Homo sapiens: one gene and its partner. The protein of the gene in region 1 interacts with the protein of each later gene in a pairwise test. Each region holds a gene or a part of one and is shown on either strand. Other genes may lie near its edges.

Region 1 (4,335 bases):
CAAGGAAGCTTGAGTAAAAACAGGAATGTTGTTTGACTCATCATCTGTGTATGATTCTATCCTAGCCTCCTGACCCATTGTCTCTTCTTGTCCAGGGGTTGCTGTGGCACTGAAGCAAGCTATGACTCTGGAATTTAAAGTTTATCAACACCAGGTGGTGGCCAACTGCAGGGCTCTGTCTGAGGCCCTGACGGAGCTGGGCTACAAAATAGTCACAGGTAGAGACACAGATGGTGTTCAGCAGGCCTGTTCTTGTGGTTGTATTAAGGCTTGCTTCTCAGTTTGTGCAACCAGGATGTGGCCCAGGCTCTGCTGCTGCAGCTGCAATGATGGGCCCACCTTGGGAGGAGGTCAGCCTCGCCTCCAACTGGAAAGCCTCCCCCTGCCTCAGACCAGCCAGCCGCCCCCTTGGGTGAGCCACAGATGATGGGAATAGTGGTTGCCATTGGTCACCAGCATAAGGACTGCTTGTCCTCAGAACAGCTTTGCAGGAGGATGACCTGAGGCTCAACTGAGAGGTTGGGCTGTAGTGGTCACACACCTGGTAGGTGGCACCAGGACTGTGTGGTGATGCCTTGCACTGTGCCAGGGGAGTGTCTTCTCTCACCCCGCTGAGCTGGGGGTGCAGGGGCTCTCCCCTCCCAGTTTCCTGCATATTCCTGGGGAGTTGGCTTGCTTTAGGCATGTTTGCTTGGATCTGTACATTCTGGAGCTGATGGGCTGTGAATGAGATGGACTTCCCAGGTCAGGGCCCCACTCTGGGGTGCCATCCACCTCACAGTCACTGCAGCTTTCCACGGAGAACGCATTTTTTTGGCAGGCAGCATACTCAGTCCTCCGGAGGAAGGGCGACTTTATACCTAGTCCCACAAGACTGCCGATTGTGCTAGCAGTGGTGTGGTCCAGGAATATGGGTCCTGCTGTGTGTAGACCTGAGTGCCCACTCTCTGCACCGTGTCCTTTGCCCTTTACAGGGATTACAGGCCCTCTGATCTAAGGATTGGGGAGGGATTACAGGCCTCCTGGTCTAAGGAGTGGGGCTCCCACCCAATCCTGCATGTGCGGCAGTGCCTGGGAAGGCCGGGCCAGTGCTGTCTCCTCAGCAGTACCAGCCGTACCCTCTTTTATGTTCTACTTCACTTACTTTCTGTTCTCCCTTCATCCTCCATGTCTTCAAATAATAAAGCTCAAGAAGTCCTCGTGCAGACTGTGAACTTCAGGGTGCTTTAGCTCAGGAGTCCCCAACCTCCGGGCCACGGACTAGTACTGGTTTGTGGTCTGTTAGGAACCTGGCCGCACAGCAGGAAGTGAGCTGGGCCGAGAGCATTGCCACCTGAGCTCCGCCTCCTGTCAGATCAGTGGCAGCATTAGATTCTCAGAGGAGCTGAACGCTGGTTTGAACTGCACATGTGAGGGATCTAGGTTGGGCCTAGACACTTTCAAGAAACTATCTTTTTTTTCCTTCTGATTATACCTGCATCCTTATGAGAATCTAATGCCCGATGATCTGAGGTGGAAGTTTCATCCCAAAACCATCCCCCGATGCCATCCGTGAAAAAACTGTCTTCCACATAACCAGTTCCTGGTGCCAAAAAGGTTGGGGACCACTGCTTTAGGTCCCTGTTTCTTAAACTTCAATGTGCACACCACCCCTGGGGCTGTTGGTGCAATGCAGATTCTGACCAGGCCTTGGGTGATGCTGGTCTGGGAGCCACCCTTGGAGTTGTGAGGGTTTAGGCCATAGTCCCTGTCACCATGGGCATCTCATGGCATGGGCCTGCCCTCTCCCTGGTGACTGTGTCATTGTCACTCTGCCATCTGAGGACCCGATGCACATGGCTGAGACAGATAATGCTTGCAAATGCCCTCTTTGGTGCCTGGTGCTATGAGAAGCACTATGTCCAGTATCTTACTTAAACTTCATGACAGCCCTGTGAATTATTGGTCTTTTTGTTACAAATGGGCATCTGAGGTTTCACAATGTTGAGCTGCCTGCCTAAAGCCACACGGCAAGTGGGTGGGCACAGCTGGGGGGCTGCAAAGCCAAGCTGGAGCCCTAGCTCACCCGCATCTTGAAAGGGATCCCCGCAACACAGCTCAGAAGCAGAGGCCCCAGTGCTGTCAGCACCCAAGGCACTACCCCAGCTTAATGAAGGTTCAAAGTGGAAGGATCCTCCTGTATGACCTCGGGCCAGGTCCAGAAAACTCTGTTAGCCTTGCTGTTGTCACCTTACCACTTTGATAATACCATCAGCCTCACAGGATCCGGGAAAAACCTACCACAGGCTACAGTGTCTGGCACCTAATGTGCTCTGTGAACATGCCCCTTACCCCCCAAAGTAAATTGAACTGCTGCCCAATATTCATGCTGCCTTCAGGGGAGCCTTTACCATCAATGTTAGGGAATTGCCCAAGCAACTTGTCAGAGAAAACAAGCCAGGAGCAGCCTGAGGAAGCTGTCCCTTCCCCATGGGAGTGTCAGGCCCTCTGCTGTATGATCAGTTACCCCTTTCAAAAGTGCTCTGTCCTTCCTTTCACATTCTTAGGCACGGGCATCTCTCGTGGGGATTAGAATCCCAGGCCATGTGGTGGGGGTGCTCACCTTCCTGACCTCATCTGCTTTGACTGCCTTCATCCTCGCCTTCGTTTCTCAGAGATTCCTTCACGGCATAGAATTCGCCTGCATTTCTACATGTCCAACTTTGTTTCCAGGTGGTTCTGACAACCATTTGATCCTTGTGGATCTCCGTTCCAAAGGCACAGATGGTGGAAGGGCTGAGAAGGTGCTAGAAGCCTGTTCTATTGCCTGCAACAAGAACACCTGTCCAGGTGAGAATCATCCTTGCCTTCTCCTTCACTCCTCTCCCATCTGCATTTCTTCTGGCCAAAGTTGTAGCTGATGAATATATTGGCTCCGGGGACAGACCTCACATAAAAACTGTAGTGGGGGCTGGGCACGGTGGCTCACGCCTGTAATCCCGGCACTTTGGGAGGCCGAGGCAGGCGGATCACTTGAGGTCAGGAATTCGAGACCAGCCTGGCCAAAATGGTGAAATCCTGTCTCTACTAAAAATAGAAGAATTAGCTGGGCATGGTGGTGCATGCCCGTAATCCCAGCTACTTGGAAGGCTGAGGCAGAAGAGTCGCTTGAACCCGGGAGGCAGAGGTTGCAGTGAGTGGAGATTGTACCACTGCACTCCAGCCTTAGCAACAGAATGAGACTCTGTCTAAAAAAAAAAAAACTGGGCCAGGTGCAGTGGTTCACACCTGTAATCCCAGCACTTTGGGAGGCCGAGGTGGGTGGATCACGAGGTCAGGAGATTGAGAAGGCTAACGCGGTGAAACCCTGTCTCTACTAAAAATGCTGTGGTGGCACACACCACGGTCCCAGCTACTCAGGAGGCTGAGGCAGAAGAATTGCTTGAACCCAGGAGGCAGAGGCTGCATTGAGCCGAGACTGCGCCACTGCACTCCAGCTTAGGCGACAGTGAGACTCCGTCTCAAAAAAACAAAAACAAAAACAAAAAATGGAGCGGGGGCAGGGACCATACCTTGGCTGTCTCTTGGCTGTGCCTTTGTACTTGGCCCTGACCCTGCCAGGGAGCAAAAAGACTGATGTAGAGCTGTTGGAGGTGGTACATTCATCAGATGAGGGAGGTCAGGGCCTCCGGAATCCAGAGGCTGCATTTCTCTGTGGGTTGTTAACAAAATATTGATGACGCATCTCAGACCCAGACAGATGTTACCCTCATTTTTAGGAGCAAGGGGCACATCAGACCACTTTGTGTACTAGTAATTAAGTCAGAGTGGCCAAACGTGGTTGTGCCTCCTTGTGCCTTGGGTTCTACTTTAGTTTCTGAATCAGTTGTACTCCTTGCTAGGGACAGCCAGTATCCTCAGGCCAGTTCTCTTTTGCCCACATGTCCCTTTTTAAATGCACCACCATCACAGTGGTGACAATGTGACTTAGGGACAGAGCCCCGTTTATCTTGTAGGTGACAGAAGCGCTCTGCGGCCCAGTGGACTGCGGCTGGGGACCCCAGCACTGACGTCCCGTGGACTTTTGGAAAAAGACTTCCAAAAAGTAGCCCACTTTATTCACAGAGGTAAGGATAAAAGTTTGGAAGTTGCCACATCTTATTGTGTGTATTTAGTTTCTGATTGTGATGAGTAGCTGAGACCCTGCCACTGAAAGACAATTCTGCACCAAGGCTGAGTGTTGGGGTGGGAGACAGCAAAAAACACATGTAAATCACCTTGTCTGAGAGGGTTATAAATTTGGGCTGCCCAGGACATCTGTCCAAGGGTGGGTGCATCTCAGAGTAATTGAGGTAA
Region 2 (3,500 bases), on another chromosome or scaffold:
TAATTTTAAAGCATCACAGTTTTGCATCATTTGTTGTTTTATTAATGCGGATGAGTCAGGGCAGGCTGCGAATGCCTCAGGAAAGACCCTTAATGGACAGGAGGGTTGTTTCCCCCTCAGGCTTTTCTTTGGGGCCTGTCTTAAGAGCATACACACACAGCCATCCCTCCACTCAGTTCTTGAAAGCTGCCTTCTGCTGGAGTCACAATTTGTACAATAGAGAATATATGACCTAAGGATTAGGTTTTCCCTCCCAGCACTTGTTTGCTATAGGAGTTAAATCATTCTCTCAAACAGTGGTCCTGTTGCAGACTGATCAGGGAAATCTTGTCTGCCAGATAGATGAGAAATTAGCATGATTCATTTTCCTTTTCCTTTTCCTTTCCCCCTCCTTTGCCTCCACCCTCCATAATTCCATGAATCAATGGTCCTGAGAAGTAAATGATAGTACAGACACTATAGTCAGCATCGTCCCTGACCTGGACTTACGTGATTCTGGAAAATTATAATATTAGGGAATCCTGGACCTAAAGACCAGAGCTAAAAAGACCAGCTAAAGCAATCATCTGGTTGAGGATGCTATTCAGAAGAATTTCTAAAGCACCCTAAATAAACATTTGGTAAAGGACTAAGCAACTTAAGAAGCTTGTAGCTTTAATACAGACATCAGTTTAAACCCATTTAAGGGCTTGAGAACCCACAGCTGTATCTTCTAATTTCTGATTAGATATTTTAAAAATATCTAAGCCTAATCAGTTTGAAGTAATTTGATGGGCATTAGTTTCTAAAAGTCTGCATTCATTTCTAAATCTGAATTAAACTTTTTTAAATGCAATTTTATAACTTTTAGCGTTACATGGAAGCTTTAAGCAAGATATATAATGCTGTCAGAACAAAGTCTTATCACACAAGTTAGTAAATAGGGTTTAGTAATGTGGAGAACTTGGAAGCAGAGTTGCAAACTAATAGAAATTAGGACTTATTAAGTCTCTGAAAAATTTATTCTTCAAAGTTAAAGCTTCACACTGTCCTGTTGGGTTAGCAGTTTGTTTTTTTCTTATAGATGGCTGGCTTCTCCTTCACTCCTGGCTAAATGAACAGAATTCAAGTTGTAAGAACTCTGAATTAGTAATATTCTATCATGCAGTAGACTCTTTAGCATTCTCTAACAGGATTCTGTGATTCATAACTGATCCCAAAGTTTCTTGAGACATAATCATTCATCATTTTGCCAAAGAATACATTTGATCCTCTATATTGAGAGGTTGGAGTAAGGCTGTGGCTCATGAAAGAGGATATTGTAACTGCCATGTTCTTCATGCACATTGAAAATATTATCTGTAGCTGATGATAATACATACTATAATACTACCTCATCTCCTACTCTTTCTCCCCCAAGAATCGTATTTTAAAAACAAGAACGCTTGGCAGGTTGGACCTCCGCATTCTGTGTTTTCTTTCTTAAGATAAGCTGAAGTAAAACTTGGCTTACCATGTGCTCAATGTAAGTCACATTAACATTCCCCACATTACTCAAAGGGAGGAGAGAATGGTGCGTTGAAGCCCAAGATACAGCCATGTGGGAGATATATGACTCCTCCTAGTCCCTGTCACATTTGGCAGGGATTCTGGTGTGAGTGGGGCATTTAGTCACCTAGACAGCAACTTATATAGAGAAAAGGCTGCTCAAGTCCTCGATAAGCCCAAGGGATGACTCCTTAGCCAGTAGGTGGGAATAATCAGAACCATGCCCCACAGATCTCCTAAAGGGTTGTCATCACCACACCCATTTCACTGCCAAGTTCTCCATTGGAGAGGAGGACTCAGCTAGCATTGGCATCCCCTTCCTAGTCCACTTAAAACCTTTAGTCTTGGCAATATTCCCAACAAGCACATACAAACACGTGTGTGCACATATGCGGGCACCCCATGTTTTCAAGGATTTAAAGAAATAATTAAATGTATTTCCTTCCTACAAAAGGGCTCAGGGACCCTTCCTATTTGGAAAGATGGAGACAAGTAGAATTTCAAGGAATTAGGGAGTCCCAAGGAACTGGCTTTTCCAGGACCTTATTTCTTTCTTTTCCTATCCCTATTCTCCCTGACTGAAGTGGAAGCCAAGAGAAAAAGTCAAGCAAAAAGGTCCCAGAGGTGGGTGGGGCACACACATATGTTAGAAACACAGTGTGGATATTGGGAATGAGAATGGGCATGCTCAGCTATACTACATCAGATCATTGGGATTTTCTACTTTTATATAAAAGGGAGCAAAAGGCACCCAAAGTTGCCAGTAGATCTGTACTTTCAAACAGGAAGAGAATGAGAATAACAAAACAGTTTCTTCCTAACTTCTGCTGTGTTCCCAGAGCCTCTTGAGACCCACCCCTTCCGGGTCCTTGTTTTTGGATGCTTGGTTGTGAATGAGTTACCCTACCTGCTGAGTCAGCTTCTATTGAACCAGAAGAGTCAGAGCCACTGAGAGCCAACTGATGCTTAAACATTTATGAAAGCACTTTCAGTATTCCTCGTTGTTGTTTTTCTTGTGGGATGATTGATCTGGGCATTTAAACATACCTTGCAGTATAAAATCCAAACTTCTTTGTTTAGTACACATAGCACTTCACAATCTAGCTCTTGCCTGCTGCCTCCACCACTTCCTCTACTCCACCCTTGCTGAGCTAAGTGTGATTCCCCAAATTACTCACATGGTTGCATGTTGCTGTGCCCTTGCACAGACTCTTGTTTCCCTTCCCTAAGTATCCCCTTCTCTCTGTCTTATGTTATCAGACTTCTTTTCTACTTCAGCACCCATCTGAAACATCAGGTGATGCCTGGAAAATTTCTAGGCAATTTGTTCATTTAGAGGGTAAATTTAAATTACATAGCTTACTGAATGACCGAAGCATCAAGGAGGGACAGCTCCACGGTGTCACCTTTACTAGGACTCCTATTGCTTCTAAATGGTGGGTACATTTGAAAAGAACGGGTGCATTTGCCAAATAATACATTTGGTCCTCTATATTGAGAGGTTGGAGCGAGGCTGTGGCATACTATTTCTCAAGCATCACTTCTCCTAGAAGGCCTCTCTTGTTCTTACTCCCACAATTGGCCTCAAGCTGTTTCTCTGAGCTACCGCATCATCCATGTACATCATTGTCATTAGCGTCAGCATGCAACATTCATTCACTTTTCCATTAATACAAGCATCCATTTAACAAATCTTTGTCGAGTGCTAGCACAGGCCCAAATTTAAGAGATTTAGTTGGTAATACAGATATAAACAACTGAAAAAGTAACCAATGGTAACAGTTCATAGTGTTATAGCTGATGCAATATTAGAGCTTTAGATATTGACAAAGATCCTGGTAGTGTACAACATAATCCAAAGGAAGAAGGAATATTTTATTAGAAGCCTAGCCACTCTGGAACTCAATATATATAATAGTAAAGGTTGTTGTAAATTCAAAGCAAAAAACAAAACAAAACAAAAAATCTCATAC

The links. Proteins that work in one complex are often made in the same cells at the same time.
Region 2: the proteins of SHMT1 (region 1) and PRSS23 interact in a two-hybrid assay, tested with the Homo sapiens proteins (one large-scale study listed by BioGRID and IntAct).

The regions. Positions count from the first base shown.
Region 1 is NC_000017.11:18,329,049-18,333,383, reverse strand, and holds part of SHMT1 (serine hydroxymethyltransferase, cytosolic), read left to right. Parts: intron 1-95; coding exon 96-218; intron 219-2,712; coding exon 2,713-2,829; intron 2,830-3,995; coding exon 3,996-4,106; intron 4,107-4,335. UniProt on the Homo sapiens protein: Interconversion of serine and glycine.
Region 2 is NC_000011.10:86,803,542-86,807,041, forward strand, and holds part of PRSS23 (serine protease 23 precursor), read left to right. Parts: intron 1-3,500.